Homo sapiens: one gene and its partners. The protein of the gene in region 3 purifies or fractionates together with the protein of the main gene of each other region. This does not show direct contact. Each region holds a gene or a part of one and is shown on either strand. Other genes may lie near its edges.

Region 1 (3,753 bases), on a different chromosome or scaffold from region 3:
AGTATTAAATGTCACTCCTTTGTACCAAACCAACACACTGTAAGGCAATAGAATGTTCTAATACAAATTTTAAAGGAGGCTAGAAACATAAAAACAAATTCACAAAACACCAGCAAATTAGAATCAATTATATATACTAATTGTGTGATTTTTAAATGTTTGCTATTTCAAACCAATGCTTTCAATTTATTGCAAACCACAGATCGAAAATATTCAGAAAAAAATAAAACCAACCAACCATATAACAATAAAAAGTAGGCCAGGTGTGGTGGCTGACACTTGTAATCCCAGCACTCTGGGAGGCATAGGCAGAAGGGCTGCTTGAGTCCAGGAGTTGGCACAGGTGTGTAGTTCCAGCTACTCAGGAGGCTGAGCTAGAAGGATCGCTTGAGCACGGGGAGGTTGAGGCTGCAGTAAGCTGTGACCATGCTACTGCATTCCAGCCTACATGACAGAGCAAGACCTTGTCTCAAAATAAAGTGTATGAGGGAGTGCTCACTTTGGCAGCATATATACTAAAAGTGGAACAATACAAAGATTATTAGCATGATCCCCACAAGGATGACACGCAAAACTGTAAATTGTTCTATATTTTAAATTAAAAAATAGAAACAATAAAAAATAAAGTATAGGGAAAACGTGTTTAGGCTATATGCAGATACTATGCCATTTTATATAATGGACATGAGCATCTGAAAATTTTAATATCTCTGGGTCCTGGAACGAATCCCCTGCAGATACCAAGAAACTGTACTGGGATAAAGTCAGGGCAGGGGGATCCTTTTTTTTTTTCTTTTTTCCTTTTTTTGAAACAGTCTTGCTCTGTCAACTAGGTTGGAATGCAGTGATGCTATCTTGGCTCACTGCAACCTCTGCCTCCTGGGCTCAAGTGATCCTCTCCCGCCTCAGCCTCCCAGGTAACTGAGACCACAGGTGCACGCAACCACATCCAGATAATTTTTATATTTTTTGTAGAAACAGGGTTTTGCCATGTTACCCAGGCTGGTCTCAAACTTTTAACTCAACAATCTGCCCACCTCAGCCTCCCGAAGTGCTGGGATTACAGGTGTAAGCCACTGTGTCCGACCTTTTTTCTAGAGCACTCAGACAATGAGGAGCAGAAAACAGAAACTCTGAGCTCTGTCAATAACACGGTAACACAGTTCTCCATTTGTAAATAGTTTCTTCCTTCCCCTTAACTACCTCACATTTGTCACGAGAATGAAGACATGTGAAAGTTAAAGTGTTGTTTTTTTTTTTTTTTTTTTTTTTTGAGACAGTCTTGCTCTGTTGCCCAGGCTGGAGTGCAGTGGTGTGATCTCAGCTCACTGCAACCTCTGCCTCCTGTGTTAAAGTGATTCTCCTGCCTCAGCCTCCTGAGTAGCTGGGATTACAGGCATGCACCACCACACCAGGCTAATTTTGTATCTTTAGTAGAGACGGGGTTTCTCCATGTTGGTCAGACTGGTCTTGAACTCCCGACCTCAGGTGATCCGCCCGCCTCAGTCTCCCAAAAGTGCTGGGATTACAGGTGTGAGCCACTGCGCCTGGCTGAAACCACGTGTTCTAATGCAGTTTTTTTTCTACAGGACTTAAAAAAGACAATGTCCTCATTTACTACTCATATGAAGTAAATGTTAAAAATCATCTCTAAACCTAAAAAAACTTTTAATCTTTTTAACCTCCATTTTATTTTAAAATGTTTCCAAGTTTGTCTTATAGCCATTTTGCAGTTTAAAAAATTATGCTTATTGGCTGGGCATGGTGGCACACGCCTATAATCCCAGCACTTTGGGAGGCTGAGGCAGGCGGGGATCACTGAGGCCAGGAGTTTGAGACCAGCCTGGCCAACATGATGAAACCTCATCTCTACTAAAAACACAAACATTATCCGGGCATGGTGGCGAGTGTCCGTAATCCCAGCTACTGAGGAGGTTGAGACACAAGAACTGTTTGAATCCGGGAGGTGGAGGTTGCGGTAAGCAGAGATGGTGCCACTGCATTCCAGCCTGGGCGACAGAGCCAGATTCTGTCTCAAAAAAAAAAAATAAAAATAACTAATACCTTATTGAAAGGGTTTGCCCTCACAATATTTTAATTTAACTTTACCTTAGGATGATAAAACTCAGTCTGGATTTCTGGCACAGCCCAATTTATGATATGAATAAATCAAACACAAATGTCAAAAGGTTAAAGGAAGCTGATAGAGAAAATGAATTTAGGAGAAGAAATAATATAGTTAGGGCTTGTATGAGTTTTTAAAGCCAAACAGGAAGCCGCACTGAAACATTCCTCTAAGAACACACCCCAAAGCTTAAACGGAAGCTACCAAATCAAAAGCCATCAATGTGACTTTCTCCAATACAGTTGACCCTTGAACAACGTGGCTTTGAACATTCTGCCTCTGTCAGTCTTGAGACAAGCAAGCCCAATCCCTTTTCTTCCTATCCAAAATAAAGACCTTTGTGATGATCCAGTTCCACTTAATGAACAGTAAATATATTTTCTCAACATTTTCTTTAGCTTACTTTACTGTAAAAACACAGTATATAATACGCAACATACAAAATGTGTTAACTGGTTATGTTATCACTAAGACTTTCAGTCAACAGGTTATTAGTAGTTAAGTTTTGGGAGAGTCAAAGGTTACATGTGCATTGATCTGCGGGGTCAGTGCCCCTAGCATCCTCATGTTGTTCAACAAGTCAACTGTATTTTCACTAGTTTCCATGTTTCTTAAGTAAAACCCACATATACTTTGGTTTTTAAAGTCGTCATTCCTTAGACAAAATGCACATTGCCATTTACTGAGTGTCCTGGCCATTATATATGGTATAGGCAGACAGTTTCAAAAGTTGAATTCTAAATGAAGTCACTTACATTTTAGGTTAAACCATATGAAAATGTCAAGATTTCAACCTAACACCATAATACCACAGCCCTTTAATGATCCCCAGTTTGGCAAGATTTCAAAAATACAACCACAACTTTGAAAAGAACTATCATATTTCTGAACACCAATAACTACAAGATACTCCACTAACAGCTTTTTAGGAAAAAGTAACTCTACCACATAAAACATAATTACAAATTGATCAAAGGACTAAATTTCTTAGAATATGTGATAATACAGTTTATTTTCCTTATAAAGCAAATTATCTGCCCCAAATGATCCTATGTAAAGCTTTAACAGACAAATAACCCATGTGAAATTTTAAAACAAAAATTATAAATACAATTCAAGTCACATCTGAACATTTTCAAACACGACAAAACTTAATTTTACCTCTTCACTCTTTGATTTATGAAGAACAAATCCCTTCTTCCACTGCCCATCAGCACCTTCATTTGGTTTTCGGATATTAAATTCTACTTTTGCCCGGTCCTTATTTTGAATAGCCTTCCACTCATCCAAAGTCATCTCTTTTGGACCCTCCTCTTTTACCTCTTCAACTTCATTCTCCCTGTGAAAAGGTTTTCAAGTTTTATACCTGGTAGAGAGCTGATATTACATAAAAGTATTTTAAATTTATGATTTTAATTGAGAAAATTAACCTTGTAATCTTTTAGAGAAAGATTATTCAAGGATGAGGGTACCCTAGTTTCCTATGTAACTAAGCAACTTGGTAGAGACCAGGAATTCAGTGTTTGCTAATTAGAGACAAGTAAGGAATATGGAATTCATACTTATGAACTCTTAAATGATCATTTATCAGTAATACAATCTAGAACTGGCTTTACGAATACTAAAAT
Region 2 (3,753 bases), on a different chromosome or scaffold from region 3:
CCTTGTCTGTGGTAGTCACTATATTTCTAGAATCTAGAAAAATATATGGCACATGAGTCCAAGGTATATCTAATTACTTGTCTCTTGAAAGATTTGTATTATACAAGTTCTGAGTAGGGTGGGAGCCATGTGTTTGTATAGGCTAGGCATTTACGTGGAGCAACTTCAAGCAGATACTTTAAAGATTAATTGGATATGGGTGGTAATGGGAGGAATTGAAAACATCTGAGATGTCTGTTTATGGAAGTAGTTCCTCAGTCACCTGGAGGTGGGGGCTAGGAGGGGAGAGAAACAGAAATTATATTCTTCTAAAGGTAGACGGGGGCAATCAGAGGAGCCAGTTGACAAGGCTGGGTTTTAATCATTTTGATTTTTAGAAAAAATCATTTGTTACAAACATGTCTTCATCATAGATTTCAAGGTATAAAGATGAGATTGGTATTCTGAATACTTCAGGTAAGAAAAGGTTTTGACGGTGGTAGTTGCATCACCAGTGTTAATACTTGTAGAGAAGGCAAGGATGATGAGAACTGAGGGGGAAAAATACTTTTATTTTTCTTCCTGAGACAGTTTCACTCTTGTCACCCAGGCTGGGGTGCAATGGCGCGATCTCAGCTCGCTGCAACCTCCGCCTCTCAGGTTCAAGCAATTATCCTGCCTCAGCCTCCCGAGTGGCTGGAATTACAGGTGCCTGCCACCATGCCTGGCCAATTTTTGTATTTTTAGTAGAGATGGGGTTTCACCATGTTGGCCAGGCTGGTCTTGAACTCCTGACCTCAAGTATTCCGCCCGTCTCAGCCTCCCAAAGTGCTGGGATTACAGGCATAAGTCACTGTGCCCGGCCTGGAAAAAGACTTGAATTTGGTTATTAGAAGTTTATTAGTGACATCTGGGTATACAGCTCGAGTTAGAGGAAGAAGCCAATTATAGAGGGTTAAAGAGAACATAGATGCTGTGTGCTTTTCTCAGTATGTTTTTGTTACAAAGATTGTTCTGCAGGGACATCACTTAAATCACATATAACAGTATCTTGTATCCCTAGTTGTGATGATGCCATAGATGTCTTGTTTCTACTTCTCTTTGGCTTCACGGTATTAAGCATGTAGTAGATGTGTTGAAAATAATAACTGTGTGAGTAAAAAAAAAAACGTACGGATGGCGTGTTCAAAACAGGCCGGGCGCAGTGGCTCACACCTGTAATCCCAGTACTTTGGAGGGCCAAGAAAGGAACAGGAAGATCACTTGAGTCCAGGAGTTTGAGACCACCCTGAGCATCATAGTGAGAGCCTCTCTCTTCCCCCAACCGCCACCCCCAGATATTAGCTGGGCATAGTGGCAAGAGCCTCTGGTCCCAGCTACTTGAGAGGCTGAGGTGGGAGGATTACTTGAGTCTGGGAGTGTGAGGATATAGTGAGCCATGATCATGCCACTGCGCTGCAGCCTGGGCGACAAGGTGAGACCCTGTCTCAAAAACAAACCAAACATTTATCAGTGAAAGGAAATAAATATAATACAATCTAAAGTAAGGGGTGTTTTGTTGTGTTTTGTTTTTGGATTGTTTGGAGACAGGAAGGAGCCAGTGGGAAGGGAAGGATGGTACTGAGCAAAATATGAGAGTTGAAGGAATAACGATTTGCAGTTATTTCCAGAAAGTGGTAAGAAGAAATGGGCTTATTTATTGTGGCTAAGGAGTTAACCTTAGAAAGGAGGTAGATCTCTTTCTCTGAGGTGCGATAGAAGTGAAAGTAGACATTGTGAGAGGTAAGAATATGAAGAAACCAATGACTTTCTCAGGTGATATCCTTAGAATGAGGTTTAGTGAATGAGGATTGGGGACCTTAAGGAGGTAGAAGAATTGCAATAACTATTGTGTGAGAATCATGCCAAGGAGTCAAAAGAATACCTCAAGTTTTACCAGATAGCAGTGAAAGTGAGTCTTGATTATTTTGGAAAGGATTATCTCTAGATAGTACATCTGTTGTAGAGCTTAACTTCAGAAACTTAATGTCCATAATAATGTCGGCATATTTTGGATTGGATTGCTATTATTACTTCTATATTTACCTATTATTCCAGCTATTTTTCAGACTGTGAAATGGTGATGTAGATGAGTTTCACTAGAAAATTTGTCATGCAAATACTAATTTTACTCATTCAGACTTTGTGGATTACAAATGTTTTAATATAAAATTTTTTGTTTTTTTTTTGAGATGGAGTCTCCCTCTGTTGCCCAGGCTGGAGTGTAGTGGCGCGATCTCGGCTCCCTGCAAGCTCCGCCTCCCGGGTTCATGCCATTCTCCTGCCTCAGCCTCCTGAGTAGCTGGGGCTACAGGCGCCGGCCACCACGCCCGGCTAATTTTTTGTATTTTTAGTAGAGACAGGGTTTCACCATGTTAGCCAGGATGGTCTCGGTCTCCTGACTTCGTGATCCGCCCGCCTCAGCCTCCCAAAGTGCTGGGATTACAGGCGTGAGCCACCGCGCCCGGCCAACATAAAACATTTTTAATGTTGCTTACATTGGAAAAACTTGAAGAAAATTGTAATCTGGTATCAAATGAGGGTTTTTGACTGTATAATTTTTAATTTATCATTGTATATTATAATTTAATCGTATATAATTTTGTAATTAAAGATCACAAATTCTTCAAATGGTGAAGAGGTTTTTTTTCATACCTTAAAATTTAATATTTAATATCTGGATAGAGAGAGGAATAGATTGAAGCACTGGAGTTTCTGAAAAATATTGAGATTGCTTTTTATTTATTTATTTATTTATTTAGAGATGGAGTCTTGCTCTGTTGCCCAGGCTGGAGTGCAGTGGCACGATCTCGGCTCGCTGCAAGCTCCACCTCCCGGGCTCACGCCATTCTCCTGCCTCAGCCTCCCAAGTAGCTGGGAGTACAGGCGCCTGCCACCATGCCCGGAGAATTTTTTGTATTTTTAGTGGAGACGGGGTTTCACCATGTTAGCCAGGATAGTCTCGATCTCCTGACCTTGTGATCCACCCACCTCGGCCTCCCAAAGTGCTGGGATTACAGGCGTGAGCTGCCGCGCCCGGCCGAGGTTGCTTTTTAAGTAGTAAAGATTTTAGAGTTGAGGAGATAACTTGAGGAGAGCTATGTCAATCTTTTATTCAATTATTTTATTTTTATTCATTTTTATTTTTAATTTATAAATTAATTTTTTAATTTTAAATAATAGAAATGGGGTTTTGCCATGTTGCCTAGGCTAGTTTTGAACTCCTAGACTCAAGTGATCCGCCTTCCTTGGCCTCTCAAAGTGCTAGGATTACAGGCGTGAGCTGCTGCGTCCAGCCTCCTTTATTCTGTTTTTATGAGAAAAAGTCAAGTTATAAAAATTTAAAATTTAGAGTAAATACAAATTTTACACTCTTATTAGTTTCCATTTTTCAAGAGACTTGTTCTTTGATAACCCTAAGGTCATTATAATAAAAATTAGGATTAGCTCTGCAAGTCAACTGTAAGTTTCAGATTGTTTCCATTCTTTCTTAACCATCTTCTTCTGCCCCCATCTTTAAAAAAAAAAGGCAGTAGGCTTTATGGCTCTAAAATCAAATGCTTATGTTGGATTCTAATAAGGGGGTTTTATTTCAGGTATTTGTAGGCAAAATACCAAGGGATTTATATGAGGATGAGTTGGTGCCCCTTTTTGAGAAGGCCGGACCCATTTGGGATCTACGTCTTATGATGGATCCACTGTCCGGTCAGAATAGAGGGTATGCATTTATCACCT
Region 3 (3,753 bases):
CAGAGTCCTTGTTCTTTATCATATTCTGCCTCCAAACTCTTGCTAAGTGAGGCTTTTAGATTTCCAGTTTGAATGACTGGGTAAATGGGATGCCATCAGCAAAGAGACAGGAAAAACCAGGGCAAGATGATGACTTCAGCTTTAGATATGCTGTGTTTGAGATACCTTTATGAGATGTATAGCAGGTGGTTGGATATAATAGTCTGAAACAGGGGCATGGACTGGGCTAGATGTATAGATTAAGAAACTGGCTGGGGGACGTGGCTCACGCCTGTAATCCCAGCACTTTGGGAGGCCGAGGCGGGTGTATCACCTAAGATCAGGAGTTTGAAACCAGCCTGGCCAACATGGCAAAACTCCATCTCTACTAAAAATACAAAAATTAGCTGGGCATGGTGGCACACGCCTGTAATCACAGCTACTTGGGAGGCTGAGGCAGGAGAATAGCTAGAACCCGGGAGGCAGAGGTTGCAGTGAGCCGATATTGCGCCACTGCACTCCAGCCTGGGAGACAAAGCAAGACTCCATCAATCTCAAAAAAAAAAAAAAAAAAAAAAATTAAGAAAGAAAAAAAAAGAAAAAAGAAATCAACAACATGTGGCTGGGCAAGGAGGCACTTGCAATAATCTCAGCAGTTTAGGAGGCCAACACAGGATTGCTTGAGCCCAGGAGTTTGAGATCATCCTGGACAAGGTCATGAGACCCCATCTCCACAAGGAAATAAAAAAATTAGCTGGACGTGGTGGCACACACCTATACTCCCAGCTACTCGGGAGGCTGAGGTGGGAGAATCACTTGTGCCCAGGAAGCTGAGGTGCAGTAAACCATGTTCGTGCTATGTACTCCAGTCCAGGCAACAGAGTGAGACCTTGTCTTAAACACAAAAACAAACCTGTGAGGCCATTTGCACTTCAGTTTCCCTTAAATATTGTTCACTAGGTATTTCAGCCCACACGTCTTCTCATTATATGTAATCCTTATTCTTTTAGGGCCATCTCATCCATTCTTATGGTTGCATGTTGTTGATTTCTTTTTTCTTCTTTTTGGTAGAGACAGGGTCTCACTATGTTGCCTAGAGCTGGTCTCCAACTCCTGTCTTCAAGTGATCCCCCACCTTGGCCTCCCAAAGTGCTGAGATTACAGGCGTGAGCTGCCATCTGGCCCTGAAGTACAATTCTTTACTATTTTTTTGAGAGCATTCTAGACTAAAATCACTTAATATCCATCAACCATTACTTACTGGCAATAGCAAATTAATTCCAATACTTCCTAATCTGGAAACAATGTCACTTTACATAGCATAAGCTTTCTGTCTTCTAAGACCTCAGCAAAATAATTAAACTTGCTAAAATCACCACTAGAAAGTTATGAAGAGGACAGGGTATTAAGATTCCAAAACAAAATTAGGTATTTCTGTCTACTAAATATCATTCTGAAACCTGACACACTGGCATTATAGGGTCCAAAAAAGTAAAATTATATGCATTACTCACTTCAGTAGTTTTTGGATTCAGAGCTAACTTTCTAAGTTACAAAGAGCAAAAACATGTTGCTGAAAGATCTTGCCTGAAACTACAGCAAAGGTGTTTACAAAATCTTTTCTGATATTCATAGGAAAACAAGCAATTTACTGTATTGGAAAAGGAAAACATATGATTTCATTTTGCATTTCCTTTAAGAAAACAGCCTTATCTGATGAGATTTGGGTAGCCTGTAGCCAAATACTTCCACTGTGTTCCACTTTTGCAACCAAAATTATCAAATGAATTTTATTTAAATGGAAAAGTCAGTTAAAACCAGAATATCCTTTGTCCAATCAGTCAATAAACTATTACCATACTGTCAATTTTCCATTCCATAAACAAGATTTCAAAAACAGGTATGAATCTGGGGTAGCAGTGGTTTGAAAATTAGGATTCAATTTAAAACAGAGCTAGAATCCAAAATTTACTTGCTGAAATGTTTAAGGTCTTTAATTTCAAAACACTTACTAAGCATAATATATCCAGAGATTGGCAATTAATTTTAACAATTTAGGTCTTTAGTAAAATTAATGTGGGCAGAAAATGTTACTTCATTACAAAGTGTTACTATATACTTTGTCTTGTGACTAACTAGAGCTTACAGGAGTATAAACAAGTTAACTGAATTTTTCAGTGGCTGAGGATTTTGTATACTTCCTCATTTTGAACTTCAATCATGACTATATAATCATATTCATACATCTGAGACTGAACTAGATATAAAGATATCACAACACCCACTAGAACTGGTTAATTAGATATGCCCATTATTTCTTCACTATTTACCGAAGAAAAGTATGAAGAAAAAAAGACTAATTTGGTTTAATTATGGTTACATAAAAATTATGTAAATATTCAAACATTTGATGAAATCATCATACTCCAACCATAAAGAATTGTAATTCCTAATGGTTAAGCAGCTTTCAGATATCATTAATAAAATACATGACTGTCATTAAAAAAATTATCATTCAGTGCTATTGATTTTATAAATAACCTTTTAGGTTAGGCCCTGCCATACCAAATTTCCTTCCTGCCTTTTTTTTTTTTTTTTTTTTGAGACAGACTCTCGCTCTGTTGCCCAGGCCAGAGTGCAGTGGCGTGATCTCGGCTCACTGCCAGCTCCGCCTCCTGGGTTCACGCCATTCTCCTGCCTCAGCTGTAGCAGCTAGGACTACAGGCGTCTGCCACCACGCCCAGCTAATTTTTTGTATTTTCAGTAGAGATGGGTTTTCACAGTGTTAGCCAGGATAGTCTCGATCTCCTGACCTCGTGATCCGCCCGCCTCGGCCTCCCAAAGTGCTGGGATTACAGGCGTAAGCCACTGCGTCCAGCCCTCTGCCTTCTTTTAAAATAAATCAGGTAGACCTAAACTAACTTAAATGTTCTCATGAAAATCAGTAAACAGCTTGGTTTTGTATTAACTTTTAGATCTCCTCAGGAACCTACATGTGACAAATTCCTAAGTTTAACACCTTAATATTACTAGTAAGTAGCATGAGTGGTAGACTATGTCTGGACTCCACATCCTGCCACTTCCATTCCAGTATCTGGACCACATCACCACTAGGAGTATGGAGTTAATCATCAGTATGACACAGCATTGAAATTCTAAGCACTGCTGTTACTAATTTTGTTAATGTATGCATATAAACAGGTATATAAACACTAAAGCCATAAAAGAGCAGTATCTATTTCTTTAGTACTAAAAGAATTTCAACTGTTAGAAAAATGAATTGGCTTAAGAGACAAAAACAAAGCAAAACAAAACAAAACATGCATCTTGAAAGTTAAAAACAAACAAACTGAAGAAAAAGCCAGTTGAAGTATTTGGATTTAACTTTACCCAACTAAGACATTCACACAACATATGCATGTCAGTCTCCTGTTCAGTCCTAGAGCCTGCAGTATTGTAATTTATTGTAAAACCATGTAACCAAATACTTAAATATATCCACAACATCTATACCACAGAAATGCATAGTACATAATATACTAACATCTCAAAATAAACTTCTATTACAGTTTTATGCAAATTATGGTAAAAGATTATCACCTGCCACATTTTGAAATGGCACCAACTTCAACATCAATGCACTAGTCAAAATCCTTACTAGAAGTGATGTCTTCTGCATTATCATCTGAACATTCAAAATCAAGCTGTTAATCTAATAACCACAGTATGTTATCATTTAAAATCACTGTATATTTGGATGTTAAAGCAGGTAGT

Evidence for each region.
Region 1: the proteins of CAND1 (region 3) and SERBP1 purify together in Homo sapiens (affinity purification with mass spectrometry; 2 studies listed by BioGRID and IntAct, with this or other methods). This does not show direct contact.
Region 2: the proteins of CAND1 (region 3) and HNRNPR purify together in Homo sapiens (affinity purification with mass spectrometry; 2 studies listed by BioGRID and IntAct, with this or other methods). This does not show direct contact.

The regions. Positions count from the first base shown.
Region 1 is NC_000001.11:67,416,723-67,420,475, forward strand, and holds part of SERBP1 (SERPINE1 mRNA-binding protein 1), read right to left. Parts: intron 3,465-3,753; coding exon 3,287-3,464; intron 1-3,286. UniProt on the Homo sapiens protein: Ribosome-binding protein that promotes ribosome hibernation, a process during which ribosomes are stabilized in an inactive state and preserved from proteasomal degradation.
Region 2 is NC_000001.11:23,323,594-23,327,346, reverse strand, and holds part of HNRNPR (heterogeneous nuclear ribonucleoprotein R), read left to right. Parts: intron 1-3,614; coding exon 3,615-3,753. UniProt on the Homo sapiens protein: Component of ribonucleosomes, which are complexes of at least 20 other different heterogeneous nuclear ribonucleoproteins (hnRNP). hnRNP play an important role in processing of precursor mRNA in the nucleus.
Region 3 is NC_000012.12:67,314,279-67,318,031, reverse strand, and holds part of CAND1 (cullin-associated NEDD8-dissociated protein 1), read right to left. Parts: 3' UTR 1-3,753. UniProt on the Homo sapiens protein: Key assembly factor of SCF (SKP1-CUL1-F-box protein) E3 ubiquitin ligase complexes that promotes the exchange of the substrate-recognition F-box subunit in SCF complexes, thereby playing a key role in the cellular repertoire of SCF complexes.